2 separate regions of the Homo sapiens genome follow, and region 2 is linked to region 1. The links come from fine-mapping of genetic effects on gene expression. A gene starts in region 1. The other region holds a variant in brackets. All regions are shown on one strand. Distances are between the middles of the regions.

Region 1 (4,513 bases):
GTAGCAAAGTTCAAGAGACTCACTCTTTCCGAAAATTCTTTAATTGATTCGGCAAATACTTCATGAGCACCACTACATACCAGCCACTGACATAGACACTGGAGATTAAGTGACGAACAAAACAAACAGAAATCCCTGGTACATACCTTCATGGACTTTACCTTCTAAGATTAGTTGGAAAACCCTGCTTTGGCCCAGCACTCTGCAGAGTGTGTTCCTTAGGCAGGGCCCTGCTTGGGGATCAGGAGACTAGGCTGAGGTCTCAGTGCTGCTCCCAGTCCACTGTGGGATCTTAGATAAATCACTTCTCCAATCTGATCCTTGTTTTCCTCTTCCAGCTATGGGAGCAAATATGCCTGAACTGTTTACTTCTAAGCATGGTTGCCAGAATCAAATGTGAGAAGGAGGTTTAATTCAAAGCAAGTGACAGGTGTTGGGCAAATGTGATATAGAGAGGGTAGGCGGGAGCTTGTCTCCTCTGGTTGGATCCAGAAGGGATGCACTACCAGGTGCTCATGTATTTAGTGCAAGCTTCCTGCTCTCTCTCTCTCCACCCAGAGTCAACAGGGAAACAGAGGCAGCAGAGGACTCAGGCTGGGACTCCTGAGTGCGAGTAAGGAGTACCTAAAGCCGGCGAAGACCTCCTGAAGGCAACCTGGAGATTGGGGTTAGGATAGAGGAAGAAAGGAGCTCAGGGAAAGCCTCATCCCCAGCCAAACATCAGGGTTCCTGGATGGGTTGTCTAGAGGAGAGAACCCAGGGAGTGACCTCATCCCTACTCCATCTCCTATTAAATGAAAAAACCTAGGCCCTGCCATAACTGGAAAGCTCAGTATCACCTGCTGCATTTCACAGAGTCTGTCCAGGTGCTGGCCTTTAATAGTGCATGAAGAGCTGGGCTCTGGATGGTTGAAGCTGTAAAGCTGGATATACGGAAGTAGCCACAGCGGTCCTTCCCTGATCCCAAGATGTCATTCCCCTCCCCCGCCACCACCATGTCTTCAGGATCCTGGGCCTCAACGCTAATGTACCACTCAGCCCCTAAGGGCATGAAATGGGCTTTCAGACCAGGCTGTGTGGGGATGACCTGAAGAGGAAGGTGGACATGCTTAATAACCACTCCTTGTGGGTGGGTTGCCCTTAATGATTTACACAACGATGGGGCAGTAACTTCTCAACAACCTTGACAGGAAGGTTGCCCAGGACAGGGCAGTGAAGCCCCAGGCAGAGCCAGCGGCAGAACCAGAGAGAGAACACAGGCCTGCCTGTTCTTGCCCCACATGGCTGCTTTTCCAGCCTGAAGCCCTAGAGTGGTGACCCTGGTGGCCCTGAGGTGGGAGGAAGATGGGTCAAGGCCATCTTGGTCCTAAGGGAGGGCTGAGGGGGAAAGCTTGGATCCTAAAGCCCAAAGCTCCCTCCCTGGTATGTTGTGCTGGTGCCAGGAGAAGAACCCGCAGGCCCAGGCAAACTAGGCCACCCAACATTCCCAGGTCCCAAAGAACCCAGTCTCTCAAAACCTTGATTGGGCAGAGGACAGGCCCTAACAGGACCGGTTTTAGCCTTAGGATAAGATCGGAGGCGCAGGGGGCTAGCATTCCCCTTTCTTCCATAACGTGGAGGAGCTGCGGCTCCCCCGCCACCCTGCCCTTGGAGCTCCCTCCCCCGGAGCGCCCAGGCCCGCGGGCCGGGAAAAGCCCTCCCAAATCTGACCTGCGGCCACGGCGTCACCAGAGCCCGGGACTGCAACTTGTCTCCGGCCTGGCTGCCAGCTGGGCCCGCGGAGCCCTCTCTCGTCCGGTGCCTCTGCAGCTCTGCGCCGGGACGGGCGGGGCTGGGGGTGAGGAGGGGAAGGCACGGCCCGGCTCGGCTCAGCCACGGGGCGGGGCGCAGTGGGGCGGGATGGAGTCTGGCGCCTGGGGAGGCGCGGAGGTGCTTCCAGCGGACGGCAGCGCGCGAGGTGAGACGGCGAGGGCTCCCGGGGCGCAGGTAGAGATGTTCCGTCGGTGCCGAAGGCCCGGCTAGTGCGGTTGTGTGGACGGCGAAAAAAGCAAGTCCGCCTTCACAAGTCCCATGGGGCTGGGGAGAGGGTGGGAGGCGGAGAGGGTATGGGGAGGGGAGACTCTCCTCAGATCCTCTCGACACCGTCGGGTCTGGGCTCCAAGTCCAAGGCCATCGATCACCTGCCACCCACAGACCAGGCCAGGCGTCAAAGCAAGTCACCCATCCGACCTAAACCCCTCTAAGACCCCGGAGTCACGTCTCCCTCCGGGGATCCTCGTGAGGTCTTGGGGGTCCCACCGCCCTGCGAGCCGCGCCCGCGCCCCGCCAGACCCGGAACTGCGTCGCTAGGTTTGCGCTGGAGCTGCTGGGATTGCTGGGCATGGGTGGGGGGGCGCAGAGGAGGAGGGGGGATTGGAGGGACCTCTGCGGAGCTGGCAGACCCCGGTACTACTGTCCTGGCGCACCCAGCCCTTCTCTGTACCAGGCCGGGAGAGGGAGGCGGCGCCGCAGAGCCTCGGGTGCAGTCTGAGAAGTTTGGGAGTGACTTGAAGAGTGACTGGAAGCACCCCAGACCCGGTTTGTCCGGTCACAGCCGGGTCCTTACGTGAGTTAGGAGAGGAGTGGGGGTCGGACGGGAGCCCCACTGAGAGTAAGGGCGCGCGTTTGTTCACAGAACGTCGGGACCTGGTTCCCTCTTTAATCACACCCCCGGGGGCGCTTCGTGTGAGGTTCCACGGGGGAAGGCGAGAGGCGCAGGCTGCCACACACGCACTGTTTGGAAGAGGGGAAGGTAGGGAATAGTGGTCCGGGTGTGGGTGGTGGGGGATGCGGCTGCTTAGATCTGTGCGGTCCAGGTGATTTTGGAGGGGGTCTTGAAGTGCTTGCTCCCGCCCTGGCACCTAGGGCTGCACTTCCTGCTTTCATCCAGACCAAGTTCGGATCAAGTGGGAGTTCTTCAAAGAGAGAGTTTGGTAAGAAACTGGGGAGGCAAGGAAAACCTCTTAAGGCCATAAATGCCACAAGGTTTATAGACATCGAATCGCCATCCCAGTTTAACTCGAGTCTGGATACTTTGGCTTGCATGATTCTGCACCCTTGAATTCCTTATCCACATCAGCCCTTACTGGGGAATCCTGCCTCCAATCCACTTTTCAGATCTTGTTCAATTTCTCCACTTAACTCCTATTTTTGTGCAACAACACACATATACATTCATACACAGATACACACGTACACACAGACCCCTTCCTTGAAGAGGAAAGTCTAGCACAGGAGTTCCTGACAGGGTCCCCTTAGCTAGCCACAGCTGTAAACGTTTAATGGGGTCTACCCCAATCAGAGAAAAAAGCATCACATTGCAGTAGCTGTGCATTACCAATCAGAGGTCTTGGCAACTCCAGCCATGTCACCCACTCCCCACTTGTGGAGAATTAGTGGCCCTTACTCTATAGTTTCCAGCAGATGGGGGAGGTGGGCAAGGGGGAAGACTTCAGGAAAAAAGTCCTGTCAGGCTACAAGAGAGGCCACAAGACGTTAGCACATAACTTTGAATGAAGAAGGCTGGAGGTTGTTCTAGGCTGAATTTTCTTAAAGATTGTAACTTTATGTTTTACCCACCTCTCATACACACATAGGAACTCCACTTCAACCTGTGGTAGGTAAGGATTGGGTAATTGTGTCTATAATAAGATTGAGCATAAGGAAAGTCTTCAGTACATAAGGGAGCCTGGAAAGGGAGGATGCTGCCTCCTCCTCCCTAGGCCAGGTGAGAAAGGAGGACCCTAAAGTGTGGGAAACTCCCCCCACCCCATGAGAAAGCATCCCAATTTTGTCACAGGGGCCTGGGATGAAGTCTATATTACTGAGAATGACAGTCTGGGTGGTTCTTGCGTCTGTGTCTCTGTTTATCTAAATTTGTAGGTGCATATTTGACTGTATCTTGTGTCTGCTTATTTATATCAATGTACACTGTGCATACATCCTAGTCATGGTGATGAGGTAGGGGAGGAGTGGGTCAAGTTAATATTGATATGAGATTTTCTCACATTAAAACTAATTTTACTGTCAGATGTTACTTGACGAGCCAGAAAGAAAGATGTTCCCCAGGGAAACACAAGCGTTGTAGGAAAAGCAGGACTGTGGGGTGTGGGGTCTTCTCATTTCTGTCCCACCTCTTCATGCATGAGCCCTGTTAGCTTAATAATGAAAACAAAATTAGGGTCAGGGTCATGAAAAATTAACTTTAAATTAGGCAATGCAAATAAAGGAAGACCTAAGTTATGAAATGGAACAAGAAGAAATTAAGAAAGGCAAATTTCATTTACCAACTGTTTTTTTGCTTCTGTCATCTTTAATAAATATGACATTTTGGAGAACTGGAAATAAGTTAACATTGTTCTATACTTAAAATACGAAAAGCCTTTTGTTAGTGTTTCTTTTAAGCACATGTTAATAGAAATGAAACATTCTTGTAAATTTTTTTATAACCTCCCTTTAAAATAAATGCAGGAAT
Region 2 (4,000 bases), 22 kb before region 1:
GGTGCGATCTCGGCTCACTGCAACCTCTGCCTCCCAGGTTCAAGCAATTCTCCTGCCTCAGCCTCCTGAGTAGCTGGGATTACCGGCATGTGCCACCACACCCAGCTGATTTTTGTATTTTTAGTAGAGACGGGGTTTCACCATGTTGGCCAGGCTGGTCTCGAACTCCTGACCTCAAGTGATCCGCCCGCCTCAGCTTCCCAAAGTGCTGGGATTAGGGGCATAAGCCGCCGCGCCGGCCTGGACTTCTGACCTCTAAACAATCACCTGGCCCTACCCAACACCCCACAGACACACCATCCATGTGCGCAACCATGTGAGTCTGAAATTACAGCATTAGAAGTTCACTCCTTTGCTTTCTCTCAGAGTCATGCTTTAAAACATAAAAATTGGGAGAATTGACACATTATGCACACTCATTCTGGGGTGTTAGTAACTTGTCAGCTGAGGCTGGTGAGGCGCCCTGGAAAGTGCGGGAAGAGGCACTTGGAAGTGACCAGCGACAGGCTCCCGGGCTTACTTCACACCCTGGCCCAGGCCAACTCCATCCTGATGGAGAAGGACATTAAAGGTAAGTGCCAGCAGAGAGGGGGGCTCTCATACGAGGGGAAGTCAGCGGGGGCGGGAGGCCCTGGAGAGCCTCCCAGGGACACCCAGGCCCTGCCTGTGAGGACGATGGCGGTGGAGGCAATGAGGCGATGGAAGTCCACGGCGGCGTCGAAGGGCACGTAGCGGTTGAGGAAGGTTTCTCGCAGGAAGGTGATGAGGTTGCGGCACATGGTGAGCAAGATGTAGGAGAACATGAAAGAGATGCTGGCTGCTGTGCCCCGCGACAGGATGATTCCCACGCGGGTGGTGTCTGTGATGCCCGTGTGATGTGCGGCAAAGGCGTAGTCTGTGGAGGGGGCCCAGGCAGGCAAGCGAGGGTCAGTGCAGAGGACAGAGAGCTGGTTAGGGGCGGTAGGCCCTGGCCGGCTGCCACTCACAACAGGCCTCCCCCGCACAGTCTTCACTCAGACAGGCTCCACTTACCCTACCCAGGGCTGGCACTTATCGCAGGCCCCACCCCCAGGGCGATCACTCATTGCAAGCCTAGGGACAGGGCTCGTGGTAAGTAAAGTCACTCACAGTAGGCCCTCTCCAGGAAAAGCCCCCCAGCGATGGCGTAGAACACGGCCACGCAGCCGATGTGGCGCCGGTAGTTCTCAATGAAGCGCTTGAACTGTTGCACCGTCTGGTGGAGACAGCTGCGTTGGAACTTCTCTCGGTGCGCCTCAGTGAACAGCAAGGGCTGGAATGACGTTACCCTGGGAGACAGGAAGCCTTAGCCTTTGGCACCCACCATGGGACCCAACGCTAGTGGGGCCCCACTTCACGGAGGTGAGCCGCCCAGAAGTGAGGGAAGCCCACTGCTTCCGAGAAAGAAACCTAGTTACCCTTGTGGAAGAAGGGTTCAGACCTCACCGCATCAGGCTATATTGCACTGCATAAGCAAGCTGGCAGTGGAGGGATGGCTTGGAGTGGTCATTTCTTCCCAGGGGATGTACTCCATCTACCTGTGTTCATTCACACTCAGTCCCTCTCCTTCCAGTCTGTAGCTCCCAACTCCCACCC[G/A]GCGCCCATATTCAGCCTTTACTAGAGACTCAAAGGACACCTCTTCCATGAAGGCATCTCTGACCTCCCTGGCAGAGGTGAGTGCTTCCTTGAGTTCCAAAGCCCTTCGCTCTTACCACTATTAGAACAGTCATCAGTGGGACATTGAAATTATCAGTGTACCAGATTCTCTTCTTAGATTGTGATGTTCTTGGGCAAGGACTATTCACCCTGCCTGTACCCACAATGTTTAGCACAGTGCCTGGCACCAAGGAAAAGATGTTTATAAGCTGAAGGAATGGATGAACTGCCTGGGCTTAAGGGGAAGAGCAGACATACTTCTTGCCAAACCTCCGCCGAATCTCCTGGGGAGGGTCTGTGTCCATGGGGCACTGCAGTCTCTGAGGTGTCAACTCAGTCTCAATGTCGCTGCGGGAACAGCGGGCACTCACTCTGGGAGAGGGACTAAGACAAGAATGGTAAGAGATAGGATGCTGGCCATCTCAACCACTCGTTCCTCTGCTATCCTGGTCTGCCTCCAAACCCATTCTGCTGAGGAAGGATCAGAGCTGTCAGCAAGGGGACAGCAGGATTCCCACAGTCACCTATAGACAGAGTCTGATCTTGGGGGTCCTCGCTAAGGCTGCTGCATATGCCTTTACCCTTCACAAGGGCATCTGGGCCAGGCCGTAAGTGAGAGCGGAAATCCAGCAGGCTTTCTGCTTGCCCTGGCACAGGGCTGTGTCTGCCTAGAGAAAGGGGTGTCCTTTTCTAATTTGTTTGAAGGTGCTGCATGGGCTAGCGGTGGCCCTGATCCCAGCCATTCAGGGGAGAGAAATGGCAACTCCCCAACTCCTCCCCCCGACATTCCCAGATGGGTGCTCACCAGATCATATCCTGGCTGATGTAGGAGGCTCGCCGGCAGAGGTCCTTGATGACTTCAGGCACCTCCACCCCTGCAAAGCAGAGCCAGGCTAGGGAGCAGCTCAGGGTCCAGAGCCCAGGAAGACCTGGCTCAAACGCACAGCACTCCTACCATCCCATGCTCAGGCACAGTAGACAGTCCCAGACCAATGGAGGCCCTGCTTTCGGGTGCTCCAACCTCAGCCCTTGTCCCCAATGGGAGCTGGACCCAGCCATAGGTGGGCAGGGAAAAGGCCTGAAAGAAAGTTGGCCAGGCAGGCTTCCCTAAAGTGTGTCCATCATCAGTCCCACTTCTGGGACTATGGGGTAGATTTCGGGAACTGTATATAACCTGCCTTCTGAGCCTGCTCTGCCATAAAAATTTGGCTTAAGATCCTCTAGCTTAAAACCTCCAAGAGCTAAATGTAGAATCTAGGTGGTAGGTATATGGGAGATCACGCTACAGTTCTTTTTACTTTTCTGTGTTTGAAAATGTTCATAATAAAATATGCAGGAGAAAAGCTCTCCCAGGAGCCACCCCATTGTTCCTGTCTAGGCTGAGCACTGAAGGCAGGGCAGGACTAAGCTGCAAAGCCAAATTCTTACAGGAGTCCTGGGAATCTCTGGGTTTCTTCCAAGTGCTGAACCAAGCCTGAAGATGACCCTGGTCTATAGTTGAGGTCAAAAGAAGATAAGCTGAACTATATTAAAATTAAATCAGAATGTTTAAAACAAAGTATTAATGCCTGTACTCTCAAATGTTCCACAAACAGCAAATGTGGTAAAATGGTAACAAATAGCATATCTAGGTGAAAAGTGAAGGAACATCTCTTTTTTTGAGACAGAGTCTCTGTCGCCCAGGTTGGAGTGCAGTGGCACAATCTTGGCTCACTACAGCCTCCGCCTCCTGGTTCAAGCGATTCTTGTGCCTCAGCCTCTGGAGTACTTGGGACTACAGGCATGTGCCACCACACCTGGGTAATTTTTGTACTTTTTTAAATAGAGATGGGGTTTCTCTATGTTGGCCAGGCTGGTCTCAAACTCCTGACCTCAAGTGATCCTCCCACTTTGGCCTCCCAAAGTGCTGGGATTACAGGCATGAGCTATTGCACCTGGCCTTTTGTTCCTTTTCTTTAGTTTTAAAATCTTTATAAAAAAAATCTGGAGTCAATAACAATTAAAAGAAAACAATACTCAGTGCTAATCTTCCTCAATCCCCAAGCCTGGTTTTACCCTCCACCCCAGGTGTTGGATGTCCCTGGGACTCTGTGGTGTGGGCTCCCTTCCATGCACCTTCGTTGCCCCTGCCCTTAGGCTCAGGTGCCTGCTGCCCTGGCTGCCTGGGAAAGGTAAAAAGCTGCAGAATCAGGAGTGCTGGGTTCCTTCTCTTCCAGCTCTCCTTACCCCCAGGGGGAAGCCCTGACCAGAGGCTCATCTGTGTCTTATCTAACTTGCCCCTCTTCCCTGTGGAGGCTGCTCAGCCTACCCCTTCTCATAATTCTGG

Which allele goes with the higher level. Alleles are on the strand shown, and positions count from the first base shown. SD is a standard deviation of normalised expression in the study named.
For the expression in atrial appendage of the gene that starts at base 1,930 in region 1, A is the low allele of the variant in region 2 and G is the other (large effect, 1.0 SD a copy in GTEx).

Evidence for each region. PIP is the estimated chance that this variant, and not a neighbour inherited with it, causes the effect.
Region 2: its variant is fine-mapped to the expression of DUOXA1 in atrial appendage (GTEx, PIP 0.93).

What each region holds. Positions count from the first base shown.
Region 1 is chr15:45,127,296-45,131,808 of GRCh38, reverse strand. DUOXA1 (dual oxidase maturation factor 1) reads left to right here and starts at 1,930. Exons shown (of 9, transcript NM_001276266.2): 1 at 1,930-1,957; 2 at 2,194-2,349; 3 at 2,675-2,791. DUOX1 (dual oxidase 1) reads right to left here and starts at 1,815. Exons shown (of 34, transcript NM_175940.3): 1 at 1,711-1,815.
Region 2 is chr15:45,149,181-45,153,180 of GRCh38, reverse strand. It overlaps DUOX1 (dual oxidase 1), which reads right to left. Exons shown (of 34, transcript NM_175940.3): 22 at 2,480-2,549; 23 at 1,933-2,058; 24 at 1,129-1,307; 25 at 665-895. It overlaps LOC124903480 (a long non-coding RNA gene), which reads left to right and starts at 1,301. Exons shown (of 2, transcript XR_007064607.1): 1 at 1,301-1,691. The variant G/A (reference allele first, on the strand shown) is at 1,615.